7 linked regions of the Homo sapiens genome follow. Changing the gene in region 1 together with any one later gene gives a genetic interaction. Each region holds a gene or a part of one and is shown in the gene's direction. Other genes may lie near its edges.

Region 1 (4,145 bases):
CTGTGTGGATAGAGGCAGGGGGTGAGGCAGGGGGATACATGGACCAGGCTGTGCGTGCTCAGCCGTGGCCTGGGCTGGGGCCCTCCCGAGCCCTTTGCTGTCCCAGATGTTGCTGGGCTCTGGATGAGGCCTCAGGTTAGACCAGGCTGGACTAGGGGCTTCAGGGCCCAGATCTCTGTGTGAGGAGGGACTGAGCAAGGGTCAGCGCTGACCACAGGAGGGAGGGACCACTGTGCCCTGGAGAGGCAGCAGAGATACCTGCCGCTGGCAACCCTGGCAGATGGGACGAGATGCGTTTACAGAAGCTTTCTTGGGAGTGGAGTCTGGAGCGACCTGCATGGCCTCCTGGAGGAGCCTGGCCTCTGCAGAACGCCCTGCTGTTTGCAGGCCTGGGGCCGTTTGCAGCGTCTGCAGTTGTGTGCGGGGCCGTTGACAGAGCCTCTGACTGTGCCAGGCTGTGTGAGAGGCTGCAGCTGTGTGCAGGGTCATTTATGGCTGAGTCCTTTCCCCTGTGACATGAGATAAGCCATCATGGTCTTGTCATAATGAAACAGATTTGGGCGTGAGAGGGCATTAAGAACTGTAGAGCAGCAGGAGGCATTGGGCACCTTGCCATCAGGGAGCCTGGACCCTGGACACTGAGCCAGGTGCCCTACAGAAGATGGCTGTCCCTCTCGCAGCTGAGACCCCTGAGATAACAGCAGCATCTACAGAAAGATTGGCGAGAACAGCACGGTGAGTGGCCAGGGTGAGGCCTCAGAATATGACTGGGATCAGGGTTAAGTCTGTAACCAAGGTCAGGTCTCAGTGTGTGACCAAGGTTGGGGCTCACTGTTTGACCAGGATCAGGGCTCTGTGTGACCAGGGTCAGGGTTCGGTGTGTGTCTGGGATCAGGGCTCAATGTGTGACCAGGGTTGAGGCTCAGTGTGTGTCCAGGATCAGGGCTCAGTATGTGACCAAGGTTGGGACTCAGTGTGTGTCCAGGATTAGCGCTCAGTATGTGACCAAGGTTGGGGCTCAGTGTTTGACCAGGATCAGGGCTTAGTGTGTGACCAGGGCCAGGGTTTGGTGTGTGTCTGGGATCAGGGCTCAGTATGTGACCAGGGTCGAAGCTCAGTGTGTGTCCAAGATCAGGGTTCAGTGTGTGACCAGGATTGAGGCTTAGTAGGTGAGCAGGGTTAGGGAGGGCTCATCCTGTGACCAGGGTTAACGCTTAGTGTCTGACCAGGATCAGGGCTCAGTGTGTGACCCAGATCAAGGCTCGGTATGTGACCAGGATTAGGGCTCAATGTGTGACCAGGGTTGGGGGCTCAGCACGTGATCAGGATTAGGGCTCAGAGGTGTGTGACTATCAAGGCTCAGGACGTGACCAGGATCAGGGCTCAGTGTGTGACCAGGATCAGGAAGGGCTCAGCCTGTGACCAGGGCCAGGGCTGAGCCGTGGGCTGGGTGGCCATTCCCTCTGCTGAGGGTGCAGAGGGCCTCTGAGGTACCCCATGGCCACAGAGCCCAGCACCCTGCCTGCTCCCTGCATTCTCAGATAGTTGGGTGCTGGCCTCTCTGTGTTCCAGGTCCCTGTCCCGTGACCAGCAAGACCCATCAGCTGATTCCTCACCCCTCCCAAAATAGCTACGAGAGCAGGTGGGGTGGGAACAGCCCCCGCACGTGACCCCTGTGGAGTGGATCCTCCGCAGTGGGGGTATAACTATCGGCCTGGCTGTGAACTACCACCACCTTTTCCCTGGTCGTGTGGGGCTTCCCTGCTGGCGTACAGGGCCCAGCTTCCTCCTGGCTGCCATCTGAGCGGTGCCCACCCTCCCTGCTCTGAGGCGCCCCAGCTGATGCCCGCCCCTCTTAGACCCTAAAAACTGGACCCATCCCTGCGGCTCAGCTGGGGTCGCTGTTCGGATGCAGGGGCTCACACGTGGGCTGGGGAGTCCAGTTCCTGCTGTGGGGACCCAGTAGCTTTTCTGGAAGAAATGTCCTTGCTGGTAGATCTGGGGTCCTGAGCACCCCAGAGGAGGGAGTGGTGTGCTGGGCAGCTGGGGTCCCAGCTGCCAGTTACCGTGAATGTAGGTGGGGACACCTTTGCCTCTGCTGGGTGGCCCAAGGGACCTAGGACAGGCTCTTCGACAGCCAGACACTACCTCGACCAGTAGTGGAGCCTGAAGTCCACTCTTGGTGGACCTCACTGCATCAGGGTCTGCCTGGCTGGAGGGTGACATGCCCTTCCCTGGGGGCTTCAGGGGCCATGACCCTGCCCCAGGGGACTGAGGGGACAGGGCTCCACCCCGAGAGGTCTGAGGGGACATGTCCAAGTCCTGGGTGACTGTGGGGGACACAGCTGTGCCCTGGGAGCCCTGGTGAGTGGGTCCTGCCCCCTGAGCCCTGCAGCCCCAGCCCAGCCCTGCCTCCTCCGTCCTCCCACCCCCAGGACCTGAAGAAGTACGGGGCTACCACTGTGGTGCGTGTGTGTGAAGTGACCTATGACAAAACGCCGCTGGAGAAGGATGGCATCACCGTTGTGGTGAGGCGCGCGCCACGGGGACCCTAGTCACTGCTGCCACCGGGGGAGGGTGGGGCGGGGGGCTCCGGGCCTGCGCAGAGGGTTTGGTGCCCCTCCTGTGGCAGCCCTGGGCATGTCTGTGCCTGGGCCACGTGTGTGTCTGGGTACATCAAGGGAAGGCCAGGGTGTTGGGCCGTGTGACCTCAAGAAAGTCACCCTTGCGCACCCGTCTTTCTGTCTCTAGGGTGGGCCAGCACGGTTCGCCAGGCAGGGGTGGCACATGCTTGGTGCATCGGCCAAGGTGGCGGGTGGGCTCCTCTGCCTGTCTCAGGCCCTCCTCTGGGCCTGTCTTGGGTGCATCTCAGTCTTGCTGCCTGGGCGGCTGGGGCCCTGTTGCCAGGCAGCAGGCTCCTGGGGAGGGCCCTTGGGCAGTTTCCTCGGCTTCTTTGGCCCTGGGGACCCAGGTCTGGGCGGGGGGTGGGGCGGTTCTGCTGCGATATCCTTGGGGGGGTGGGCCACAGCAGCTGCAGGCCCAGAGCCAGCCCCAGGGGGGTCCACCCCCGGCCCGGTGGACGACTGCCCCCCTGGTGCAGGCCTGCCCAGCTGCGCCTGGGCCTCAGTCTCCTCAGTGCGGAGCACCCCTCAGTCACTGCTTTTCATCCCAGGACTCTGCTTTTGGCTGGGGTTGCAGTTTTGTGACCTCAGCTTGGCGGTTTGGAATGGTGGCAGCGCTGGCGGTTTGGGGTCAGACAGGCCTTGGGCTGCGTCCCGCCTCTGCCCTCCCCAGCCTTGCGACCCTGCAGGTCACTCCGAGCCTTGGGTTCCTCACCTCAAAGCGAGGCTGCTTGGAAGAATGGGAGGCAAAGGCATGTCCCCGCTTCTCGCACGGGGTGCGCCCACACCCTCCCTCCCCTTCCACAGCAGCGGGAGGGATTGGGGTCAGACGTAAGTAGCCGTGACACCGGTTGTCTCTAGGAGTTGCCCTGCCTGGAGGCTGGGGAGGGGTGAGATGCCCCCGAGGGCTGTGTGTCTGCCTCAGTGGGCCCAGCGGGCTCTCCCTGGTACCAGACAGCCCCATGCCTGGCACAGTCCCTGCATGAACCCGCCTTCCCAAGACTGAAACGTGTCCACTCCTACTGCAGCGCCCTGGCCCGGGCCCTCCCCTAGGAAGACTCACGTTGCCCACCGATCTAGGGCGCTGGGGGACGGGACAGTGGGAAGCACAGGTCATCTTCCAAGACCAAATTAACCCCCAGGAGCAATGGGCCGGGGCCCGGTGGAACCGCCTGTTTCGAGTCCTGCCCTCAGAAATGTGGGCCCTGTCTCGCCCCACAGCCCTGTCTTCAGTCCTTCCTGGCACCTGGGCTGTGTGTGGCATGTGCCAGCCATCTTTGCATGCCAGCACAGGGGATGAGACCCTTTGCACCAGCCGACCCAAAACCTCTCAGGCTGCCACCGGCACACAGGCGTGAGGGATTGTGACCCCAGAACCAGAGCTCGGGCTGACAGGTGTGGGGATTAGGATTTGTGCGACTCTGGAGCAGGCTCTATTCAGAAAGGGGTGGGGTGGTCCAGGAAGGCTTCCTGGAGGAGGGGATAGCTGCAGTGTACAGGGAATGATGAGGAGTCTGAAGCACT
Region 2 (4,145 bases), on another chromosome or scaffold:
TGGGAGAGAGTGAAGGGCAGGTACTACGGAGCATAAGATCTTTAAGAAATTTTGTTGCCGATGTTTGATAGAAAGACAAACGCCTAAGCCCTAAGGCTGTGCTCTTTGAAAGAGAGAAAGGGAACACTGCCTGCCACATTCCTGTGGATGTTTACAGCAGCAGGTTACTTGCCAGTTTGAAGATTTTTCTGAGCCATTTTTCTTTATAGTTACCTTATATGGTAATTGAAAAGATAAATGAAAAAACATAAGTAAAAACCCTTGACAAAACTATAAAAGGAATTATTGTGGTATTATTCAAAATCTCTTTTCAGAGTGTCCAAATTTGGCTTGCCTAAAATCAGATTTGTACAAAAGATTTTTGTTATTCCTTCCCAATTCACATGGAAAGTATCATATATTTCAGTTCTGTGCTAGATCAAAAATTTTTAAAGGGGCTTCTTAATCTCTTTAAAATCATAAAAGGAACAGATTTCTAAAGGCAAGTTTTCTGCATGACCTACTTCAACCCCTGTCCTTTGTGGCTCTTCATTGCACCACAGGAAACAATTAGGGCTCTATACATATCTATAACCTCTGTATATGTGAAATACTGATTTCTGAATAAACCGAGTTACTTCCATAAGAAACAATCCATGGTTTTTATAAATTGTTGGCTTTAGGCTTTAAAACTTCGTCATTTCGTGAGATTAATCTGAACAAACTGAGTCTATACCTCAATTAAACCCTCAGGTGTATTGGAAATTATGTTTCCATTATTTTACTATGAATGCTGAGGTTAAGAATCCCTTTAACAATGTAAAACCTTACTGTTTTGCCAAATTTTTACAGAAAAATAGCTCTGTGTGTTCTACCAGTGTCAAAATAAAACACTTGAAGGTAGAGTGCCTAATTTAATTATAAAAGGTAAACCTAAACCTACAGGTGAAGAATGATATAACATTCTTAAAGATTTATCATAGGAAGCCTTGGCAGAATGTAGGGGGAGACATTGTTTCTTTTTGTTGGATGTGAGTCCAAATTATATTTAAATGGCATTATACTGTAATTGGTTATAAAAATTAGCCAGCTCTTTCCCTTCAGTTTGACTGTATTGATACAACTTTTAAAGTGATAACTTTATTCATATTATAAGCTTTGCCTAAACTACACTCCCTGTCAGTGAGTGCTGTGTCCTATACTACCTTATTCAATCCTCACATCAAATATATGAGGTAAAGGATGTCACCCTCACTTTGCAATTGAAGAAACTGAGGCAGCACTTTTGGAAGGAAAAGCCATTTGTAATTATCTACTTTAAGTTTCTACTGCTAAAATATTTTACTAGTTTTGAGCCAGGTGTAGTGGCTCATTCCTGTAATCCCAGCACTTTGGGAGATGAAGGTGGGAGTATCACTTGAACACAGGAGTTCTAGACTAGCCTAGGCAACATAGCAAGGCCTACATCTCAACAAAAAATAAAGTAATTAGCAAGGCGTGGTAGTGTGCACCTGTAGTCTTAGGTACTTGGGAGACTGAGGCAGGAGGATTGCTTGAGCCCAGGAGTTCAAGGATGCGGTGAGCTATGCTCATGCCACTGAACTCCAGCCTGGACAACAGAGCAAAATCCCACCTCAAGAAAAAATGTTTACGATTTTTACTATAATTTTATTATAAAGTTACTGATTGTTAGAAATACTAGGGTATAAAAAATATTTTGCATTCAAGAAACTGAAATATTTAATGTTGTCTAGAATGCATACATATATGAGAATGGTAAAAGAGACTGGAGAAATTCAAATTATGAATGTCATATTTTATTCAGCATGCTTGGGCATTTGTTCTTTTATCCATAGTGCTGTGGCATCATTAAAAAATTTTTAAGCTTGTCATTGACATGATTAGATTGTATTTTAAGTCTAATGGAAAGAATTGGGCTGGGACATGACTTCAAGCTCCAATTCCTTCACTAAATAAGCAAAGAGGTTTTGTTTGTTTGTTTTTAACTGTTTTATATTTTTAAATAAATTGTGATACATATGAAATAATATATACACACACACACGTATATGTAACATTAAGTTATAAAGCATAGTGATATAATGAACAATTAAGAACTCAAGCACCAGTATTTCTAACTTCCATTTACCTATGTTTTCCCTTGTGCCATTCCCCTTCTTCCCCTGACAGTTATTTTCCTGAATTATGCTTTTTTAGATTATAGTGTTATATATATGTTTTCATAAACTATATATGATTTAGTTTTGCTTTATTTTGAGCTGTGTGTTGTTTTCTTGGGACTTGCTTTCTAAAGTCACATTTTGTTTCTAGGGTTTATATATATTGTCATATCACTGTAGCTATAGTTTATTCTATTTCACTGCTGAATAATATCTGTGATATACTACAGTTTATCTGGTTTCCTGCTAATGAAACACTTTGGTTATTTCTAGTTTTTCCTATTGCAAATAATGCTACTACACACATTCTTGTGCAAGTACAAGCTCCTCTAGGAAACATCCCTAGGAGTCACATTGCTGAGTTGTTGAGTATGAGAATATTCACCTTTACAGGATAATGCCAAATTGTTTTTCAAAGTGGACATACAAAGGAATATTTCCATCATTAATGTATAAGCGCTCCATTGATCCATAATCTCTCCTACCTTGGTATTATCAAATGTCTGATTTTTGCCAACCTAGTATTTTAAAATGGTGTCTCATTGTCATCTTCATTTACTTTTCTCTAATTACTAATAGGATTGATAATTACATTGTTTATTTGGCCATATACGTGTCCTATTCTGTGAAATATCTATGCCCATTTTTCTGTGTTTTATCTTAATTGATTTGTAGAAATTCTTTGTATATTCTAGAATATAGATAATGTTGCAAAATATCTTCTTGCAGTTTGTGGTTCATCTTTTCAATTTCTTTTCTTTTGAGGAAAAAAAACTTTTAGTGTGGAATTTATCACTATGTTTGTGTCTTGTTTGAATCCTTCTCTTCTGCAAGATACTATGTGGCTAATGATTTGCCTGAGGTTTTTTGTATTTTCTGTGTAAGTAATGCCAATTGCATTTCTTTCCAGTTCTTATCCTTCTAATTAATTTATTGTTCTTTATTACTATGTTAAATAAGAAAGACCTCTAATGCAATATTTAATTGAAGCCAGTTATTTAATTGTAGGGGTCATCCTTCTCACGTTTCAATCTGATAATCTATGTCTTTTAAATATTAAGTTTAGTTTATTTACAATTGCTGTGAGTATTGAAATAATTGGATCTACTTTCTACCATCTTAATTTTTATTTCTATTTGTCCTTTTTTATAATTTTTGTTTCTTTTTTTGATTGAGGTTTTTTCTTATTCTATTTTTATTCCTATTTCAATTATTTTAGAGAATTGCCCATATCACTTAAAAAGTTCAAAGCCAAACAATGTTTAACCTCTCCTTTTTTACATTGTATGGACTTTGTATGCTGAAGCTTCATTCAGCCTCCTCCTGGTTCACATTGTTATTGTTAATATCATTATTTTTGTCTGTCGTTTATTGTCAGTCTACAAATTAGATATTATTATTGTTTTTGTTTTATACAGGCAACATTTATCTGGATTTGCATAGATGTTTACCATTTTCTTTACTCAGTGTTTTATCAAATACATCCTTTAGGAATTCCTTTAATTTGGTCTCTTGTTGGCGTATGTTCAGTTTTCATTTGTCTATTAAATGTTTATCACTTTTTTCGTGATAGGTTGTTCTGCTGGGTTCACAATTTTAGGTTGCCAGTTCTGTTTTTTTGTTTGTTTGTTTGTTTGACACTTGGAAGATATTATTCTAGTGTCTTCAATATTCTGTCTTTGGTCTTTGGTCATTCTAATTACCTTTTCTTTGTATATGATCTGTCCCTTCTCCATGGCTTCTTTTAAAATCTTCTCTTTATCTTTGGTGTTTTTCAGTTAAATATGTAATAGAACTAGGCACTGATTTGTTTATATTTATCCTGCTCGAGACACATGATGTTTCATGTATCTGTGGCTTTTTATAGTTTAAAATAATTTCTGGAAAAGTCATAGTCATTATCTCTTTAACCGCTCCCTCTCTTCCATTCTCTTTGTTCTCTCTTCCTCGAACTCCTGTTAGTCATTTGATCCTCCATATCTCTGA
Region 3 (4,145 bases), on another chromosome or scaffold:
TTGGCCTCTCAAAATGCTGGGATCACAGGCATGAGCCACCGTGCCTGGCCATTTTCTGCATATTTTCTATGTAATCATTTTGGCCAACACTGTGGCTCACTCCTGTAATCTTAGCACTTTGGGAGGTGGAGGTGGGAGAATTGCTTGAGCACAGGAGTTTGATACCAGTGTGGGCAACATAGCAAGACCCTGTCTCCAGGAAAAAAAAAAGGAAGAAATTTTCTTAAAAAAAATTCATATATATAAAATTAAATTCAAAATATTGGTGATAAGGAATTGAATTTGTTCAGATTTTCTGTTTTTTGAAATGTATCTGTGAGGAAAGAAGTATAACAGTTTTGTATGCTAAGCTTTGTCTAATTCATCTGGCAATGAATTCTGCAGTGAATTTTCCAGATAACTGAAGTTTACCCTTTGAGGCCCTTAGACATTTTTAAAAAAGTTTACTAGGCTGGGTGTGGTGGCTCACGCCTGTAATCCCAGCACTTTGGGAGGCTGAGGTGGGTGGATCATGAGGTCAGAAGTTTGAGACCAGCCTGGACAACATGGTGAAACCCCGTCTCTACAAAAAAATACAAAAATTAGCCGGGCGTGGTGGCACATGCCTGTAATCCCAGCTACTCGGGAAGCTGAGACAGGAGAATTGCTTGAACTCGGGAAGCGGAGGAGCGGAGGTTGCGGTGAGCTGAGATCACGCCATTGCACTCCAGCCGGGGTGACACAGCGAGACCCTGTCTTTAAAAAAAAAAAAAAAGTTGACTAATCTGAATGGAAATATTTCTAAAATACATTATCTTTTTATGCTTTGCAATTCCTCATAGTGTAGGTTTGTTTCATTGTTTTTTTTAAATACTGAACTTTATTTTGAACATCTCTCATTGACCCCAAACTATGTACTATAATTTATCAGTTTCATATCTGTTTTTTTTTTTCTTTTTTTTTTCTTTTTGAGACGGAGTTTCGCTCTGTTGCCCAGGCTGGAGTGCAGTGGCACAATCTCGGCTCACTGCAACCTCCGCCTCCCAGGTTCAGGCAGTTCTCCTGCTTCAGCCTCCCTAGTAGCTGGGATTACAGGCATGCACCACCACGCCTGGCTAATTTTGTATTTTTAGTAGAGACAGGGTTTCACCATGTTGGCCAGGCTGGTCTTGAACTCCTGACCTCAGGTGATCTGCCTGCCTCCGCCTGCCAAAGTGCTGGGATTACAAGTGTGAGCCACCGCGCCTAGCCATATCTGTTCTTTTTTTTTTTTTTTTTTTTTTTGAGACAGAGTCTCACTCTGTTGCCTAGGCCAGGCTGGAGTGTGCAGTGGTGCGATCTCGGCTCACTGCAACCTCCACTTCCCTAGTTCAAGGGATTCTTCTGCCTCAGCCTCCCTAGTAGCTAGGATTACAGGTGCATGCCACCACACCTGGCTAATTTTTGTATTTTTCTAGAGACCAGGTTTCGCCATGTTAGCTAGGCTGGTCTCAAACACCCGACCTCAGGTGATCCGCCTGCCTCTGCCTCCTAAAGTGCTGGGATTACAGGCATGAACCACCGCGCCTAGTCCATATCTGTTTTCTTTTTTTTTTTTTTTTTTTTGGAGACAGAGTCTTGCTCTGTCGCCAAGGCCGGAGTGCAGTGGCGTGATCTCAGCTCACTGCAACCTCCGCCTCCCGGGTTTAAGCGATTCTCCTGCCTCATCCTCCCAAGTAGCTGGGACTACAGGCACCTGCCATCATGCCAGGCTAATTTTTGAATTTTTAGTAGAGAAGGGGTTTCACCATATTGGCCAGGCTGGTCTCGAACTCCTGACCTTGTGATCCACCCGCCTCGGCCTCCCAAAGTGCTGGGATTACAGGCCTGAGCCACCGCACCCGGCCAGCCTGTATCTGTTCTTTAAAGTTGTTTTGTTTTCCTTACTCTCATGTTCTTCTTGCTGCTTATTGTGCCTTGTTGCTGCCTGTTGTGCAATTTCTTCCCTCTTGTATTTTACTGAACTTCATCTGAAGAAGCCTTAGTAGCCAGATAAACAAGCTTGTTTGGGCTAAAAAATCAATTGCTGTGTGAGAGTTTGTTGGATTCTCTTCTGAGTAAAGGGTATGCGTTTTATTGTACGGACTTTGTATCACCTATTTTGGCTTTTCATCTAGGCCTTTTTTTTTTTTTTTTCTTTTTTCTTTTTAGCCTCCTGGTTCTAGATACAACTGATACTCTGATACAACCTGGGTAAATGTGGTCTTGAGTAGTAAATTATCTGTGAAGCTTCTCCGAACTTTGCCACATAAATGAGCCTGCTCTTATTGTGAAGTAAATCTTACTCTAATCTGTATGTGAGTCAGTGGGAAATATCTGAGCCTTCGGATGGCTTTTGTTAACTGAGATTAGTTCTCTAGATTTTAGTGATTTCGTTTTGAACACCATACAAGTATGTGGTCCTTGGTTTATTTGGTCACTTGTAATCTCTTTAAAATTTTATTTTAAATTAGGAAATATTTTAGAAATACAAGAAAGTCACACACTATGAGATTAAACAGATGTTAACGTTTTGCCCCATTTTCATCAGACTGTGCATGCTTTTTTTGGGGGGGGAATAAAATGTCACAGATATCACTAAAGCCCATTTCCATCTCGTCCCACCCTGCCTCTAGAAGTAACTTCTTTCTTCAGGTAGGTGCGTATTATTCCTTTTTATTCCTATGTATAGTTTAAAACTTTAATTGCATATTAGTAGCCACAAACATCACATACCAATATTCTGTGCCTTTTGCATTTTTACATTAATGGTAATTATTTTTGACCTTCTGCAAGTGGCTCTTTTCAATGTTTCTTGTTAGAAAACTTGGCTCAACTTGAGTTTACTAATTATCTGCTTCTTCTTGTCTTTAGCTATTATAGAACTGTTCCACCAAGGCAACAATTATTGCTATTTTAATGGTGAAATCAGTTTTATTAGGCAAATTGACTCAGGCTTCAGACTGGCATTTGGAATTGTCACACTGGAGATTTTCTTTTACTGAAATCTCAGGACATTGACAATCAGAAAAAAACCCTCTTGAGTCTTACTATCTTACATGTAAGATATGTTCCTGAGTGACTGTAGTAAAGACTCATTCAGGAAAATGTTATCTCCGATTTCTGCCTCCCTATCTCATAGGAAACTTCCATTGTAAAGTTGTTACCAGGCGTCAAGCTGCCTCTTTGGTACAGCCCTTACTTAGTATTTGGCTCAGTTGAAGTGCAGTCTATATAGGAGGCCAAGAAGACTTAATCCTGGGTTTGAAACAAAGCAAGGATACACTAACATTCTATCCTTTAATAACATCAAGTAGAAAAATTGAAAATGAGCTTGTTATCAGTGCACTTTTATATGCCAACCTTGTTTCACTTGTGTTTTAAACTGGGAAACTGAAGATTTTAATGCTGAAATTTCTTTGAATTATTACCTGTTTTTTTGATAGTGGAACACACAGCTAATATTTACTAACATGAAGGTGTCAAAGGTGGGAAATCATGTACTACACCATCAGGTCAGCACTACTGTTTGGAAGAGCAGCATCACAATGAGCAGTGTTATACTGCGTTGTAGTCAGCACATACACTTATGTCCAAACAGATATTTTAAATTACCTTCTTGGGGTAGTACACATGTGCTGATATCCAAAGTGCCATATAATACAATACATAGTTTTTAAACTTCATATCATTCTGATCAGAAGCTTTATAAACTGTTAGGTGAATGCTGTTAGATGATATGAGAGCACAATTTAACCTGTGTGTGTGTATGTGTATGTCTTAACATCTATTAAGTGATGACTACATATGAAGCACTAAGTGCTAAAACAGAGACTTTACATAGATTATCCCATTATTGGTCAACTTTTTAAATAAGTGCATCTCTAATATAAGACAAGATGCTGACCAATTTTTAAAATGTGAATGGATTTCTATTTTTAAGATAAGTACCTTTGTTCCTTTGGTTCCTCCCTCCCACCCTTCCAGAAATGGTAGTATCCTGGAAAAAAAAAATTAGTAACAATTCAAGAAACAGCTTAATTCATTAGTATAAATAGATGAGTTTCCCTTAAACACAGGAGGAGTTGGAAGGTACTTGTAATTGGATGTTGTGCATGGTGCCTTTCCAAAATGCACAAATACTTTCT
Region 4 (4,145 bases), on another chromosome or scaffold:
GCTCTTGGTCTGGGCCCCTTTGGTTTTTGGTTGCTAGAAGACTGTAGACCTGGTGGAGCAAAACTGAGCTCCACTAACGCATCAGCTAGGATCTTTCCACATGGGTTACCTTGTAAATGGGGGCATTGGTGAAGAGAAGGGGCCATGTCACTGGACAGTGTAATAACGTATGGCAGTTATAGAACCCAAATCAGATTGCTGTGTACCTTTTCTAGTTTTTAGGAAAATACTGGTATTTTGTATTTTAAGATATATATATATATATATATATACACACATACACAGATATAGATATGTAGAGATGAGCTTGTTACCATGGGTTATGTGCTAGATAAGAAAGCAAAAATAAGTGCATACATAAATAGAAAGCTTCCAGTGTTTGTATGCTGCTAACAAGTTACATGACCTTGAATAGGTCAGCTAAACTTTCCAGGCCTCATTGCACAGAGGGTCGGCTCGAGCAGCTCCTGAGCACCGGCAGGGTGAGGCAGTAGAAGGCGGTGCTGCAGGCCAGAGGTGGAGGGCAGGCAGGATAGCTTGCTGACTTGCTCCGGGTCTGACCATCAGCAGTATCTGGGTCAGCACAGATGCCCTTTCGTAAGCTTAGTGCCTGGCTCCAGGGCAGCCTGTGTCCAGTTAATGAATAATCATCACTGACCAGCTGCTCCTTCTCTTGTGTGAAGACTTAGAAAGTGTTCTATGCTGGTGACTCGGCAGAGAGGATAGACTACGTAATTTAGCAGGGTGTGCATCTTCTCTTTCCTTAAAATCAGAAGAATCATAGTGTAGTGGTGGTGCAAAGTAGAGATGAGGAACTCTATTCCCTGTTTGAGATTCCTTTCTCAAGTTATGGGGCATTTGAGGGCCACTGTGATTTCTGGTGCAGGCTGTTCCCTGTGCACAGGGATCTGGTTGAGGAGCTAAGCGAAGGCTGAAGTCCAGCCACTGTCTCCTTGCTTGGCTTTGTCTTTGTGTGTGGCTGGGTTCTTTCAAAGGAGTGCCTTCTAATTCACCAAAGGTATGGTTATGGATTAGGGGTTGTTCTTAGGTTAGAGTTGGGGACTGATTCACAGAGCTGATGAGGAAATTAGGATTTACATTCAGGTGACCCTCAGCCCCTCAGACCAGGCTGAGTAAGAAGAGATATCAGGAATCCAAGGAAGCAGGAGGAAAAGGGGTTGCCTGGTGATGTCTGTTCTCTTTCCTCCTCTTCCTGCCCATGCAAGGCTAGAGCAGCTGTTTCAGCCCCGGAGGTTTAGACTGTGGGGTCCTGTGTGCTGGGCCATCAGGTTTGGTGGGAGGAGGAAGAAAGCCACAGTAGAAGGAGACATAAAGTTGGGCTGGGCCTCTGGCAGTGAAAGGTTCTTGGGGTCTTTATTGTCTGATCAGTAAACACCTCTGTGTGCCAGAATGAGCTGGGACAAGGCCCCAAGGTCAGCCCATATTTGTATCTGGTGTTCTCCTCCAAGACCAGCCAAGCTGTGCGCTCATTCTGCTGGGAACCTGAGCCCTCCAAAAGGGTCATATGAAAGGGCATCTTATTCTTGAGGGACGTTTCCAAGCATCTCTGTGGCCAGTGTCCATCCAGGACTCATCTTAGAGGTGAAGAGTGGTGGCCAGAGGCGGAAGCTAGTGGCCACCCGATGGGAGCCTTTTCTGTTTCAGAGCATATGAGGGAGCTGAGGGAGCTGTACTGTTGATGCCTTCTCTCTGGCTCATCTCCATGAAGATTCTTTTGAACCAGAAGCAAAGGTGAAGTCTCTCTGAGGGGAGGGGCTGAACAGGAGATCTACTGACTGTCCCCCTGCCGACTCCTCCACTTTCGTCCTCCGGCGGGGCTCCTTATCCTCCTGCTTGTCTACAGGGAGAAGATCGAGTTGTTCGTTTGCTGCCATTTTAATGATCCACATTGTTAGGAGGCTCTCAGTACACACCGGACCTTAGCAGCCTGGCCTCCTGCCCAGGGCCCAGAACTGTTACTCAGCCCCTCTGCCGAACAGCTAAAAATAAACCTGCCACTGCTGCAGTCTCCCCTCACAGCCAGGCCCTGTTAGCTGTCCCAGTGCTTCCTGCCACACCGCTGACCTGTTTCTCTCACTTTCTGCTGATATTCTCCCTGCTTGCCCCTTTCTCTTCCAGCCTGAGCTTGGTAGGTGATTTGGGGCTAACTCACTCTTCTGAGTGCTGGGAGACGTGCTATGGTTTTTATGTCTCCAGGTGTCTAGATTTGTGTGTATGAAAGCTCCGTGAAGCTGTCCTGCTTATTTCCCAGTAGGGAAAGGGTTAGACAAAAAGGAGAGTGACCAAGCTCATCAGAGTGGATCAGACCTTCTACTGTGCTCGCCTCCAGCCCTGGCTTCCTCCAGTTTTACCTCCAAGCAGGCCTCTTTGCCAGAGTTACCTGGTTATGGTAACAGAGTTACCATAGTTATATGCTAGGACAGCCCCACATGGGCAGTCTGCCCCAGGCCTTCAACCCGACTGCCCTGTCACCGAGCATGCTACCTACCGTGTACTCCTGCCCTGTTGCTACGTTATATTCTCCACCTCCGCAGTGTGAGGCTTTGGGCTACCACATTCAAAAGTGTGACCTCATCTTGTCAGCGTCCAAGAATAACTGGGCCCTGGCTCTCAGGATCTCCTTCCTGAGTCAGGCCATGGCACCTCTGGCCCTTCCAGCTCAGCCACATGCAGAATGTCACCGAGTGCATGGGTTTCTTCTACCTCTTGACTGCAGTATTGATGTGTGTCCATGGAGGTGTGGCCTCTTCCTCTACTCCCCAGGGATCCTGGAGACTTGTGGAGCAAGATGAGGAAAGGGGCTCAGGTAGCTAGAATATTTGCTTAGCTGATAGATACTGGGCAGAGTCTGACATTGGCATTCTGTTCTTCAGCGTGGCGTTAGTATTCTTTCTGATTTTTTCTAATCCCTAGACAGGTGTTGATACTAATCGTGGCCTAGGAGGGCTCTATGTCTGCTTTCAGGAATTATGGTTTATTTGGGGGAAGGGGTGTATGGTGGAGAGTGATGGCAATGACAACCAAGACATAGGACTTGAGGAACCCACTGCCTTCAGCTAGAGTTACATACTCTGACCATGTGTCGATGGCCTCCTTCTCCCACCTCTCCCCTGGGGCCACATTTCCTCTGCAAGGAAAGATTTATCTGCCAAGGCCCATTGGCCTGTGCAGAGGAAGAGTTGGGCATAGTTGCTAAGTGTTTATTTTTAACTCTGACAGAAGGAGCCCCTGTCCTCAGAATAGCCATACCCTCTGTCTTTCCCTATCCCGACTGCCTTCCTTGGCTTCTGTGATTCCTAGAAGAAGGTTAGTAGGATTCTAAAGGCCAGGCTTCACGGGAGCTGGAGAAGGCTAGCTTCTCTAAGTGAGGAATCTGCAGGTTGCTCGTCATGCTTGGCTTCTGCAGAGCTCAAAGGGTCCTGCGGGGAGAGCCCTGGACACTAAAGGCCGTGTGTCTGGAACTTGGAGAATTCTAGGAATGCAGGTGACCTGATGAGGAGGCTGCATGTGCCCTGCAGCTCAGAGCAGCCTGGCTGCACAGCTGAGTTGGACAGCCCAGCAAGGGGTCATCCCATACCTTCTACATCCTTACAGGCACCCAGATCTCTGGCAGATGGGGAGGCCACAGGGAGAAAATGAGCATATGTAGTAACCTGCCCTGGAAACACTTGCGCTTGCAGACACGCCAAGTGCTGTCATTCCCTCTGACTGCCAGGCTCACGAGCATCATGTCCTTTCCAGCAGAGCCCACCTGCGACTCTTAGTGACTTCATACCCTTTGTGTTCTCTTCCCCTGATGTGCTTTAGTGACCTGTGCTCACAGAGAGGAGGAGGAAGGGTGGCAGTGCCCCCTCTCCTGGGTCTCAGACTTTCCTGACTTTATGCATTTGATTTGGCTACCTGGGCTCGGATACTTTAAAAGAAAATAAAATTAGGTTTGAGGTGTAACCAGAGAGAGAAGGAATAGAGAGTAGTAGGGGGTGGGATGGGTGGTTGAAACATGTGGCTAACTCTGAGAACCCTCAGCTATGGAAGGAAGGTCTTGCCCCCATGATTCTTCGGCGTGCAGTGGGGGATTAGTTTGCCCAGAGCCCAGCTCTGATCATGTAGCTTCCCAGCTTAAG
Region 5 (4,145 bases), on another chromosome or scaffold:
TCACCTGAGGTCAGGAGTTCGAGACCAGCCTGGCCAACACAGTGAAACCCATCTCTACTAAAAATGCAAAAAGTAGCCAGGTGTGGTGGTGCGTGCCTGTAATCCCAGCTACTCAGGAGACTGAGGCAGGAGAATCACTTGAATCCGGGAGGTGGAAGTTGCAGTGAGCCGAGATCGTGCCATTGCACTATAGCCTGGGTGAGAGAGTGAGACTCCATCTCAAAAAAAAAAAAAAAAAATATATATATATATATATATATATCTTTTGGAGGGGGCACATAATGCAACCCACCACATTCCCCAACCTCTCCCTGCTCTCTAGCCTGTGGGTTCTTTGAAGATTGTGTCTTCATTCCACATATTTTTCTTACGTCTATTATGAACTACACCCTGTTCTAGGCACTGAGGGCACATCACAGTCAAGGTCCCTACAGTTGGTGGAGCTTCTTCCTCCACATGGATTCAGACAGTAAACATTGAAGTGGCCCTTCAGTGCTGAAGCCAAACACTAAGTGCATGTATGCACATACACACATACAGTAGGCGCCCCTTAGCCATGGTTTCCCTTTCTGAGGTTTCAGCTACTCATGGTTAACTGCAGTCTGAACATACTAAATGCGAAATTCCAGAAATAAACAATTTCTAGATCTTAAATGGCATGCCTTTCTCAGTGGTGTGATGAAATTTCATTCAGTCCCACTCTGTGCTGCCCAGGACTTGAATCTTACCTTTGTCCAGCCAATCCACACTGTCTACACCACCTGCCCGTTAGTGTCTCAGTAGCCGACTCAGTGATTGGATCACCTGTCTCTGTATGGCAGTGCTTGTGTTCAAGTCACCCTTATTGTATTTCACAATGGCCCGAAAGCACAAGAGTAGTGACACTGGCAATTTAGATATGCCAAAGAGAAGCCGGAATGTGCTTCCTTTAAATGAAAAAGTAAACGTTCTCAACTTAATAAGGAAAGAAAAAAAATGTATGCTGAGGTCAGACATTGGTATGGTAAGAACAAATCTTTTGTCTGTGAAATTGTGAAGAAGGCGAAAGAAATTCATGCGAGTTTTGCTGTTGCACCTCGAACTGCAAAACTGTGGCCACAATGCATGATAAATTCTTAGCTAAGATGGAAAAGGCATTGAGTTTGTGGGTGGAGGACATGATGGCAATCAGGTGTGGTGCTATCCTCAGTTTTAGGAACCCACTGGGGAGTCTTGGAACATATCCCTCGTGGGTAAGGGGAGGCTACTGGATATGCGTATATATAGTCACTTAATATATATTGGATGAGGGAATGTTAACTGGAACAGTAGAAGATGAAGGATAAATTACTACATTTCATCCAGCCAGTGCTTTCTGGCATGTTTATCAAAATGTAAAAGTGTGGTTGCTCTTTGTCCCTTGTAAAACTTTGTTCTATGGTACTTGAATTCTTATTCTCAGTTGACCTGAGGGTCAACCCAACTCCCCAGATAATACTTCTGAATATCATAAAACCAAGCTTATAAGGTGTATTCCTAATTTTTATTAAATTCAAACTTACAACTAAAGAAAACACTTGAATTCTGTTTACCTTCCAGGGCAGCGTCAGTTCCTCTCAGTCTCCATTTGTGCAGATGCCAGGTGAGTACTTTAATTCAATAAGCAATTATTCCCTTTTGAATTTAAATCAAGCATCTGGGCTTCCATTCTTTCATAACGACCTTACAACACTTCCAAAACTCTGCTCCTTTAAAATAGTTTTGTCTAAAATACAAAATCAGCGAAGGACAGAACTCATGCAGTAATTTCTGAATTTAAAATTCATTTTGTCTTGAAAGCAGCCCTTTTATCCCAAGCTTTTGGGGCAAAGGCAATATAAATTATGCCCTTGATACAGTTTTAAATTGTCTAAAGTTCTGACACCATGATCTGATAGATGAGGCATCTGCTTTCAAACAGAAAGGGGAAAGCCGTCTGCGAGCAGAGGGAGTCAGGCATTTGGTTCAGTATTTTGAATTCATTTCAATGCCTATGTCTCATTAAATACTCCTGTGGGGATGTAAAAGGGGAATTCCTAATAATACTGTTGGACATTCTTGTATAAACACACACCACACAGGCAAAGACAATCTCATTTAGTTCAACTCAGACGCGGCACATTCCCTAATAGTTTTATCACCTTCAGAGCTGGATAAGGGAAAGGAATAAGAGCAATCGAGGATCCCGAATATTTAAATGTCTGTATGTTGTTTCCCAATCATATATAGTGCCATTGAAATTTGGTGGCATCTCCTGCCTTCTACAGAAAAAAAAAAGAAAAATTTCCATAGCTTCTCTTTATCTAGAAATTATCCTTTCTCTTTGTACAGAGAAAATCCATGCTAAGAGAGCAGAGGCTTTTTTCTTCGTGGTTGTTTTGATTTGGAAATTGGGAGTATAGATGAGAGCCTGGAAACCTTGTTTTCATATTCTCAACCTTAACCGCTCTCATAAATATAATTTCATTGTATGAAACAGAACCTTATTTATTTATATTAAGGTTCAGCTGCACAGATTTTTTCCCAAGGAAGTATGCTTATAATGAAAACCCTAACTTCAGCTTTCAAATGCATGAGCAGGTTAGAAGTTATAGAATGTAAGATGAAAGTGAAGTGAGTGGAGTCGTGCCACAGGTTTTGATGGGGAATTTTGATTTCTTCTTCTGGATGAATAAATTCACATGCCATTCTTGAACACAATGTTATACTACTAGGTTTAAAGAAAATGTATAAGGCATGAGATCTGCCCCCTTGGGCTCGCAGGTTGACTGGAAAGATCATTGTGACTCAGGTGAAAGAGGAATGAGCATAATATAAAGTGCCACATCCTGTGGAACGGGCTGGAATTCTGTGTCTATAGAATCAGAAGCTCAGAAGTGGTCTGCTGCTGTGGTTGGGGTAAGGTAAGGAAGACAGGCACTTATATCTTCTCCCCAGTTCAGCCTTTTTGTGACCTATGACCTAAGGGTGTTGGTGTTAGCATTAGATCACACCCAAGGCCAGCTGGAACAATTAAACCATCAGTTTTATAGACCTCAAGTCTATGCCCTCAAACATGTTCTGAATGATCAGTGTTTTCTGCTACAACTGAGCTACGGGGTCAGAAAGTGTTGAGCAAACACACCTTTTTCCTTGGAAACCATTTCACTGCTGGGCTTACCTTAAATGAAGCTCTTATCAGTTTCTGTCCCTCCCTCTCTCCACCAAGGAAAACTTTTTACTTTTTTTTTTTTTTTTTTTGAGACGGACTCTTGCTCTGGGCGAGATCTCAGCTCACTGCAACCTCCACCTCCCGGGTTCAAGTAATTCTCCTGCCTCAGCCTCCTGAGTAACTGGGACTACAGCAGCTGTGATTACAGGCATGGTGGCCCAGCTGATTTTTGTATTGTTTTTAGTAGAGATGGGTTTTCACCATGTTGGCCAGGATGGTCTCAATCTCTTGACCTCGTGATCCGCCAGCCTGGGCCTCCCAAAGTGCTGGGATTACAGGTGTGAGCCACCGAGCCTGCACCACCAAGGGAAACTTTATGTAGCCGGCACTGTCTTCCTAAACGTGCTGGGCCCTGGTGAGTTGAGTGAAGGAGTCCATGAGGCCACAAGAGGGCAGCAAATAACATAAAACTCATCAAAACCCTAAAACTACAGGCCTCTAAAATTGGCTTCTGTGTGGCCATCTAATCCTAAAGAAAGTCATTTATTGATGTCTGCCAGGCGTGCGACCCAGTGTAAGGTCAATGTGTGAAGAATTAGAAGGCAGAGTACAGCCTGCCTCTTTGAGGTGGGGTTATATGTGTTACCTTATCCAGACATAGCGATCTCAGATAACAGGCCAGGAGCACCTCTTGTTAACAGTTCTATGTATATGGAGAGGTAGCTCCGATGTTGTGAAAAAGATGCTTCCTTGGTTAAAATATGAATGCCAAGAGATTATTTCATTTATGTCTTCCTAGCACAGCGCCGGTCACCGGGAAGGTACTCAGTAAATGTGAATGAATGAACAGACACGGTACTGTCTAAAATGAACTCACCCCTAAAGGCGACAATGTTTTCAAACGTTAGTTATTTGGGCTAATGCAGGAATATTTCACGCTTTTCAAGACATTTCTCTATTTCCATGTTAGCGTTGG
Region 6 (4,145 bases), on another chromosome or scaffold:
TTAAGAAAAGTCAGTATGAGAAAATAAAGAGTAATCAGATAAGCCAAAGATGGTTGTTCACATCATACAAAGTTTCTTCACTAGTAATAGAGTGACTCCATGGCTTTAAAAAAAAAAAGGTAAATATCCTCGTGCACTTAAGATATGATTTTCAGTGAAACATTTTACTCTGTAGAGTGGTTTTTAGCAGCCTATTTTTGATTCAGCAAATATTAATCACTTTCTGTGTGGCAGGGATTTTGTTAGATGTGAGGGATAGAAATGTGAATAAGTCATGGATCTTGTTCTCAAAAACATTACAATTGAATAAGGGCCCATGATATTTCAGGAGGAATAGAATGAGACAGATCCAGGTGTCAATTTCTCTGTCCTCTCAAAAGTTATCCAAAGGGAAACAAGATTTGGCATAATGTCCAGGAATAGGCCTTGGTGTGCATTCTTCTCTCTCTTGATTCTGACTCTGGCAACTTCTGAGTTTATCTATGTCTGTATCCTCCCAAGGAATGATTTTCTTAAGGAGATAAAGATCATGTCTCGGCTCAAGGACCCAAACATCATCCATCTATTAGCTGTGTGTATCACTGATGACCCTCTCTGTATGATCACTGAATACATGGAGAATGGAGATCTCAATCAGTTTCTTTCCCGCCACGAGCCCCCTAATTCTTCCTCCAGCGATGTACGCACTGTCAGGTAAACAAGCCAGGTCTTCCTTCTCCTCCCTGTGGTCATGAGAGTAACCTGGGATCTGAAAATAGGGAGCAGTGAGCCTTAAAGTGTATCAATGTTCTGGGATGGTGGGGGAAGTCAGTGTGCAGGGAATAATGGAGCAGCTGCCCTTTGGGGAAACGCAAGGGATTCATCAAGAGTAGAGAAAGAATGTTGAGCTTTCAACCCTAGTTTGTTGATACCATTTTAGAATGTGTACCTTTCACATCTTCCTGTTTCCATAGGCTACCTTCTGTCTTCTTGTCTATTTCCTCAGTTACACCAATCTGAAGTTTATGGCTACCCAAATTGCCTCTGGCATGAAGTACCTTTCCTCTCTTAATTTTGTTCACCGAGATCTGGCCACACGAAACTGTTTAGTGGGTAAGAACTACACAATCAAGATAGCTGACTTTGGAATGAGCAGGAACCTGTACAGTGGTGACTATTACCGGATCCAGGGCCGGGCAGTGCTCCCTATCCGCTGGATGTCTTGGGAGAGTATCTTGCTGGTAAGTTCTCAGCATTTTAAAGCCCTGTCTAACAACTGGCTTGTGGGCTCACATGCATGACACGTGGAGACAAACCTGAGACAGCAGGAGGCAAACTCAATAGACTGTAGTATTTTCTCTGATTTGAAATTATTTTCTTTGTGTACTAATTCTTATTATTTAATGCTTGCCTATTTCTGCTAAAAAATTAACACACATAAAAATTTAGGGAGAGAAGTTAAAAAGTATAAGAGATTTATTATCTTTGTTTCTCTTTATCATTTCTACCTAGTGATTGTTCTTAATTTAAGATATTAAAAACCTTATCATTTAAAGAAATGTTACCTATACAAAATATTTTCTTCTCCATTAGTTTCATAAGCATGTTTCTCATAATTACATAGACTAATTCCTATAATTGTATTTCAATACTTTTCAACATGTTCTTTTTAAGTTCATCATTCTTTGCTTTATAATTTTTATTTGATTCTTGATATTCCATACCATAAGTGAGTAATTTTTCCCAAATATCTCTATTAGAGGTATATTTTCTGTCCATGCATACCTGAGACTTTTTATTGTTGATTTTATAACCACTCAGCTGATTTATAGACTCATTAGACTATACACTTTTACTTCCTACAATGCCATGTACATGTTATTTTATCTTTTTTCTTGTGTGACATTGCAGAGAAAAGTCTGAGACCAATTTGGTTTTGTTCATTTATGATTAATCTGCTTATTTCCTGCTAATATTCTTATAGGATTTGTAAATTAATTTTGAAATAAAAAATGTATAGTTATTCCCTTGCACTCACCAGGATAACCACTATCAATACTTTGGTATATTTTCTTAGAGGATTTTTTTCTATACATATATTTTTTCTATGCATGCAATTTTTTTTCTGTGCATGCATTTATATACATATGTACATATATGTAATTTATATTACATAATTGGGATGACACTATGCCATACAATTCTCTATCTCTATTTTTAACTTAACATTTTATTATCTGCATAATATTCCATGTGTAGATATATACTATAACTTAATAATGCCTCTATAATTTGATATTTAAGTACTTTCCAATTTCCTGCTATTATGAATGATGCTGTGATGTACACCAGTTTACATAAATCCTTATAAAGATCTTTTTCACCTATATATGTGAATTGCTATATTTTACCCATTTCTAATGGGATAGTTAGGCATTACTCTCCCTAAAGGTATTATATGGTGTTCAAAACAATATATTAGACTGACATTCAGAGGACCTTGGTTCAAATCCAGTTTTTCCACTACTAATGGTCTTATTAACCAGAAGAATTTGGGAAACCTCTCCTGTTTCATTTTTCTGATCTAAAAAATAAGGATAACTGGCATGGTGGTATGTACCTGTAGTCCCAGCTACTCAGGAGGCTGAGGCAGGAGGATGAAAATCTGGGCTGCGCTGCGCTATGACAATTGGGTGTCCTCACTAAGTCTGGCATTAATATGGTCACCCCTAGGAGCAGTGGACCACCAGGTTGCCTAAAGAGGGATGAGCCAGCCCAGGTCAGAAACAGAGGAGGTCAAAACTCCCGTGTTGATCAGTAATGAGATCAAACGTGTGACTGGCCATTGCACTCCAGGCTGGGCAACATAATGAGACCCCATTTCTCAAAGGAAAAAATATTTAATAATAAATAATATCATCCACTTCACAGTGTGGTTGTCTGTATTGAGTAGAAAATGTGAGTAGTCAATGCATGCTATTTACACCTGAATCTCATTGCTGTCACTTGTTAAAGTCTATCTTTCAACACTGTGATTATCACTGAACTGGTAAATGAGAGTCCTGGATTCACTGCAGGCACTTAAACTAGATTCCTCTATCTCTAACATAAAAACCATTGACTTCCCATTCAGATTTTGCCTTTCTCAGGAGCATTTTCCCAAGGCTACCCTAGAGTTGAAAGGTTGACCTAACACTCAGTTGCAGAGTCAAATAGCTTATGGCTGCGTTTTTTTCAGCTCTTGGATCTCATCCCCAGAGAAACAGAACCAAGCTGAGATCATGAGAATGAAAGAATGGGCTGTTTCTAAATACTCCATGCACATCTTGGCATTTTCAGAATTCCTTGCCTGTGGTGGGGGAAGGGGTATAGCTGCAGATTATGAAATTTAACAGGGTGTTGTTGTGCACAGGTTATTCTGATTTCCCATTCTTTTCTTTACTTAAATAGGGCAAGTTCACTACAGCAAGTGATGTGTGGGCCTTTGGGGTTACTTTGTGGGAGACTTTCACCTTTTGTCAAGAACAGCCCTATTCCCAGCTGTCAGATGAACAGGTTATTGAGAATACTGGAGAGTTCTTCCGAGACCAAGGGAGGCAGGTAAGAACTGTTGGGGATGAATGGATGTGGACCTGTGTACCTTGAAGGATGGAGAATGGCAAGTCCTGCCTTAGCAGGAGTGGGCCGAGATGGAAGACAGACTATCCAGGTGTTAGTCTTTGTCACTAACTATCCAGATGATGTGAAAGACCAGTATCCTCCCCAGGCATCCATACACTTTGCTTTATCTATGTGTCAACTCATTGACTCTTGGAGAGCATAAAGGGTCATGTCAGGTTTCTCCCCAGCTCAAAGGTAGCAGGAAACAAAGTCCTATCTCTCATGATTTATCTATTTCTTGATCTAGACCATGTGGTTTTTCTTCTGGGTCAAAAAATAAAAGTGTAAAAGGGATGTATTAGCATTCATTAAAAATATAGCTTAGTATAAGAAATGGGGTTGGTTTTGACTATCTAGCAATGTTTCTAGACTTGGATGTCTGAAAATGGGCAGATATATCCTAAACTTGTTGCTCTTGGAAGGCATCTCTGGGCCCAGTATTGTGACATCTCAGGACTCAGGGAAAGATGAGTTCCCAAGCTCCCCAGGAGTCTCAATTCCTAGCC
Region 7 (4,145 bases), about 140 Mb from region 1:
CCTTTGTGTGCGAGACGCAGCGGGCGCGCCTGGTGGTCCTGGGATAGCGAGAACAGAGCATTTCTTCCTCCTCCACACGCCTCTGGGGACCTCGCGGTTTTCACTGCCAGTCTCGTTTCTGTTTCTCTTTGTAGTCCGTGGTGGGGAGCGGCAGCTGGCAGAGAGTCAACGCCCAGACGGCTGTGAGATCCCCGAGATATGCCGTGTTTGACCTCATGGAAGGGAAGTCTTATGTGTTCCGAGTGCTGTCAGCAAACCGGCATGGCCTGAGCGAACCTTCGGAGATAACGTCCCCCATTCAGGCCCAGGATGTGACCGGTGAGCTGTCACACTGGGTGGCCCCAAGTCAGGATGGACTAAGAGTGGGGTGACACCAAATAGCCTTAAATTGTGTGAATAAAGACATTAATGTTATAAACGAGTTGAAGTTCAAGTGGACTTAAAACTTCACTTTACGAGAGATTAAGAGCTCTCTGCCATGTTTTGTTTGGTTCTTGACATTTCTCCAAAGCTCCATCTTCTTTTCATGAAACCAGTAAGTGAGTTGAAAAATATGTTTAGGAAACGGTCACTTTTATTGTTTTATTTAAACTTTTAAAAAAACTTTTATTTTAGGTTCAGGGGTCCATGTGTAGGCTTCTTACATAGGTAAACTTGTGTCATGGGGGTTTGTTGTAAAGATTATTTCGTCACCCAGGTACCAAGCCTAGTAGCCATTAGTGACTTTGCCTGCTCCTCTCCCTCCTCCCACCCTAGACCCTCTGATAGTCCCCCGTGTGTATTTCCATCTATGTGTCCATGTGTTCTCATCATTTAGCTCCCACTTATGAGTGAGAACATTTGGTATTTGGTTTTCTGTTCCTGCATTAGTTTGCTAAGGATAATGGCCTCCAGCTTCACTCATATTCCTGCAAAGGACGTGGTCTTGTTCTTTTTTATGGCTGCATAGTATTCCATGGTATATATGTACTGCATTTTCTCTATCCAATGTCATTGACAGGCATTTGGGTTGATTCCATGTCTTGGCTATTGTGTGAATAGTGCTGCAATGAACATTCGCATCCATATGTCTTTATGGTAGAATGATTTATATTCCTCTGGGTATATATGCAGTACTGGGATTGCTAGGTTGAATGATAGTTCTTTTTTTTTTTTTTTTTTTTGGCTCTTTGAGGAATCATGACACTACTTTCCACAATAGTTGAACTAATTTACATTCCCACCAACAGTGTTTAAGTGTTCCCTTTTCTCTGCAATGGTCACTTTTAAAGTAATTCAAATTTTAAGTGCACTAGACTTTTTTGTTGTTGTCTTTTTTTAATTAATGCTTTTTTAAAAAAATTTTTGTTTTGTAGAGATAGAGTTTCACCATATTGCCCAGGCCAGTCTCGAACTCCTGAACTCAAGGGATCCTCCCACCTTGGCCTCTCAAAATGTTGGGATTCCAGGTGTGAGCCAGGGTGCCCAGCCAGGCACTAGAGTTTCTTGCCCATCTGGCTTGAAGGTCCCTCTTGGAAGGTTTCAAATACAAATTACAGAAATTTTGAATTGCAATCCCTGGAGTCATAACTCCTTCGTGGATGGCAGTTAACTAGCATGTAAGCGGAGGCACCCTGGAAATCCCCAGAAGCCTTCACGGGAGGCACATTGGTGTCAGGAACGCGGTTCTGAGTGCCTGGGTGCCCTCCACCCTCTCTCTGTCGTGTTTCCTGAGAAAGCCAGATACGGAAATGAACAAGGTCACGAGGCCGGCTGCCTCCAGGGCATCCTCAAGTTTCTATCTGGCTCTGGTTTTAACTGAAGCTCTTAGAACTCATACCCAGAACCACAGGCTTGACAAGACCAGCTGTCTTTGAGCAAGGCCCTGCCTTCTTGTGCTTTATGACACATATGAAAAATGACAGTGTCCATCACTGAGACACACTGTGGGGTGTGTGGCCCAGGTGGCCGGCACGGAGGACACAGGTGGCCCCAAGGCCTTACCTGACCTCAGTCCGCAGTCCACTAGTGGGGCCTGGCACCACATGACAGGATCTGATGGTTAGGTCATGATCGAATTTTGAGTGCCCCTCGGAGATTTCAACAGATCTGATAAAATTGAGTCTTACTTTCTTAAAATTGGTTAATTTCCAGTCCAAAAAATAGTTGTTACCCGGGTAGCCTCATCCCTGCTGCCAACAGAGAGTCTTTTAAACAGCTCTGATGGGAGACAGGAGGATTCAGGATGGATGTCATCCTGTGTCTCTAGGAGTTGTGTGGAGCTTGGGAAGAGATCAGAGAGACCAGCACCTCCCAATGGCCCTCGGGTGGTCGGCCCGGGGCTCCTCTCCTACTCCTGGACCCCTTGTCTGAATTTCTTCCAAAGCCCCCAGTCTGGCTGTCCAGTTCCCTGTGAAAAGGGCCGGAAGATCTCTGCTGTAGCTTCCAAAGCTCTGATGCCATTTCACCACTCCTTTTGTCTCCTACGAAAAGTTGTCCCTTCTGCTCCGGGTCGGGTTCTTGCTTCCCGAAACACCAAGACGTCGGTGGTGGTGCAGTGGGACCGACCTAAGCATGAGGAGGACCTGCTGGGCTACTACGTGGACTGCTGTGTGGCCGGAACCAACCTCTGGGAGCCCTGCAACCACAAGCCCATCGGATACAACAGGTGCGGCCTCCCTCCCCAGCCCTGGAGTCAGCCTTGCAGGAGTAGCAAGACCGTTGAGGTCCCTGTGGCCCTGGCACAGGGAGTACCATGGCCGCAAGGCTTCTGCGTAAATGAGTCTGTCTTAGCCACACACAAGGGCTGTATAATTTTAAAGTTTGACCACTTGGATGAGCTAGTTACTGCACTTGCTCATGTCGACCGAAACGATTTATTTATGGATGAAAGGAGAGTTCCAGAACCTGTTTTTTTTTCCCCTGACATAATTAGCACTTAGGCCTTTTCTTTGAATAGCAGAGTTAAAAATAGTGACTACGATGTGAAAGTCGTTTTATTTTTTTCGTATTGATTTTTTTGAACTTGAAAGTTGCTTTGTTCATGTGCCTGGTAGTTCTATTCCCCAGCACCTGATGGAGACCCCACCGGGCGCCGACTCTTCGCTTGTGGTGGGGGCAGCCTCGGGGGATGCTGGTTGCTTTGCAGGGGAAAGCCAGTGACCCTGCCTTTGGAGAGACTTGCTCCTGCTGCCTGCTGAGTGTGCAGGGATGTCTGAGGTTATTAGGCTTCTCTGCGATACGCGTCTTAGGAAAATGTCAGCAGCTGTCAGAACCACCCTTGTGGATAGATGATCAATTATGGCTCAGCCATTTCTCCTTTTAAAATCTGAAAAAAATACACTGTAAAAAGTGGTGGCTAACAAGAAGAGATGTCATTGAAAAGAATAACAATTAGATGTTCTTCACAGCCCACAGCAAATGCAGAAAGATCGATCAGAATAAGAAACTTAAAACATGATTCCAGTACAGGGAAATGGTTAGTGAATATTTATTGACTATATATGATAAATAATAATTGCTTACACGGACTGAATATCTATCATACACAAAGCATCTGTGCTAAGTTGTCCACCTAGAGTTTTCCATGTAGTGCCTGCAATAGTGCTGTGGGGTGGGAATTATCATCCCCATCTTACAAATAGAAAAACAAAGTCTTACAGGGGTTAAGGAGGTTGATTAAGACCATAAAATCTGTGAGGTTTCAAAGCCCCAGTATTCGAGCCTAGTCCATCTGACTTCCAAGTCTTGGCCTGTAACCACTGCAGTGTAATTACTGCTAATTAAGTTTTACATACACGGGTTCTTTTAGATAAGAAATGGCATACTGTTGGATAATAGACCTCTGATCCAGAGGAGGCCCAGAAAGTACAAAAGCAAAGGTGAACTCACAGAACAAGTGGCTTTGGCACCACGTGTAGTCAGCTCCTGCTATAATTAGGTGCTGTGACCTTACTGTCGGACTCTACATGTTGAGCTAATTAACTAGAATTGAAAATGAAGGATGTATGTTATCCATAAAAATTTTTTATGGCGCGTTCAGGGTGATTTTTGCTTCTGCTGCAGGAGAGAAAAAGTGGAGCCTGGCAGTTCTGACCCTGATCCCTGTGTTTCTCAGGTTCGTGGTGCACGGCTTAACCACGGGAGAGCAGTACATCTTCCGAGTC

What was found.
Region 2: changes in PTP4A3 (region 1) and DTWD1 together harm fitness less than expected from each alone (positive genetic interaction), as found in Homo sapiens cells (one study listed by BioGRID).
Region 3: changes in PTP4A3 (region 1) and NPEPPS together harm fitness more than expected from each alone (negative genetic interaction), as found in Homo sapiens cells (one large-scale study listed by BioGRID).
Region 4: changes in PTP4A3 (region 1) and MAPKAPK2 together harm fitness more than expected from each alone (negative genetic interaction), as found in Homo sapiens cells (one large-scale study listed by BioGRID).
Region 5: changes in PTP4A3 (region 1) and POU2AF2 together harm fitness less than expected from each alone (positive genetic interaction), as found in Homo sapiens cells (one study listed by BioGRID).
Region 6: changes in PTP4A3 (region 1) and DDR2 together harm fitness more than expected from each alone (negative genetic interaction), as found in Homo sapiens cells (one large-scale study listed by BioGRID).
Region 7: changes in PTP4A3 (region 1) and MYOM2 together harm fitness less than expected from each alone (positive genetic interaction), as found in Homo sapiens cells (one study listed by BioGRID).

The regions. Positions count from the first base shown.
Region 1 is NC_000008.11:141,422,613-141,426,757, forward strand, and holds part of PTP4A3 (protein tyrosine phosphatase type IVA 3), read left to right. Parts: intron 1-2,435; coding exon 2,436-2,528; intron 2,529-4,145. UniProt on the Homo sapiens protein: Protein tyrosine phosphatase which stimulates progression from G1 into S phase during mitosis. Enhances cell proliferation, cell motility and invasive activity, and promotes cancer metastasis.
Region 2 is NC_000015.10:49,637,947-49,642,091, forward strand, and holds part of DTWD1 (tRNA-uridine aminocarboxypropyltransferase 1), read left to right. Parts: exon of another isoform or gene 1-2,877; intron 2,878-4,145. UniProt on the Homo sapiens protein: Catalyzes the formation of 3-(3-amino-3-carboxypropyl)uridine (acp3U) at position 20 in the D-loop of several cytoplasmic tRNAs (acp3U(20)).
Region 3 is NC_000017.11:47,536,963-47,541,107, forward strand, and holds part of NPEPPS (puromycin-sensitive aminopeptidase), read left to right. Parts: intron 1-4,145. UniProt on the Homo sapiens protein: Aminopeptidase with broad substrate specificity for several peptides. Involved in proteolytic events essential for cell growth and viability. May act as regulator of neuropeptide activity.
Region 4 is NC_000001.11:206,691,234-206,695,378, forward strand, and holds part of MAPKAPK2 (MAP kinase-activated protein kinase 2), read left to right. Parts: intron 1-4,145. UniProt on the Homo sapiens protein: Stress-activated serine/threonine-protein kinase involved in cytokine production, endocytosis, reorganization of the cytoskeleton, cell migration, cell cycle control, chromatin remodeling, DNA damage response and transcriptional regulation.
Region 5 is NC_000011.10:111,279,820-111,283,964, forward strand, and holds part of POU2AF2 (POU domain class 2-associating factor 2), read left to right. Parts: intron 1-1,578; coding exon 1,579-1,621; intron 1,622-4,145. UniProt on the Homo sapiens protein: Transcriptional coactivator of POU2F3. This complex drives the development of tuft cells, a rare chemosensory cells that coordinate immune and neural functions within mucosal epithelial tissues.
Region 6 is NC_000001.11:162,775,151-162,779,295, forward strand, and holds part of DDR2 (discoidin domain-containing receptor 2 precursor), read left to right. Parts: intron 1-501; coding exon 502-693; intron 694-985; coding exon 986-1,220; intron 1,221-3,429; coding exon 3,430-3,579; intron 3,580-4,145. UniProt on the Homo sapiens protein: Tyrosine kinase involved in the regulation of tissues remodeling. It functions as a cell surface receptor for fibrillar collagen and regulates cell differentiation, remodeling of the extracellular matrix, cell migration and cell proliferation.
Region 7 is NC_000008.11:2,089,874-2,094,018, forward strand, and holds part of MYOM2 (myomesin-2), read left to right. Parts: intron 1-134; coding exon 135-318; intron 319-2,472; coding exon 2,473-2,647; intron 2,648-4,096; coding exon 4,097-4,145. UniProt on the Homo sapiens protein: Major component of the vertebrate myofibrillar M band. Binds myosin, titin, and light meromyosin. This binding is dose dependent.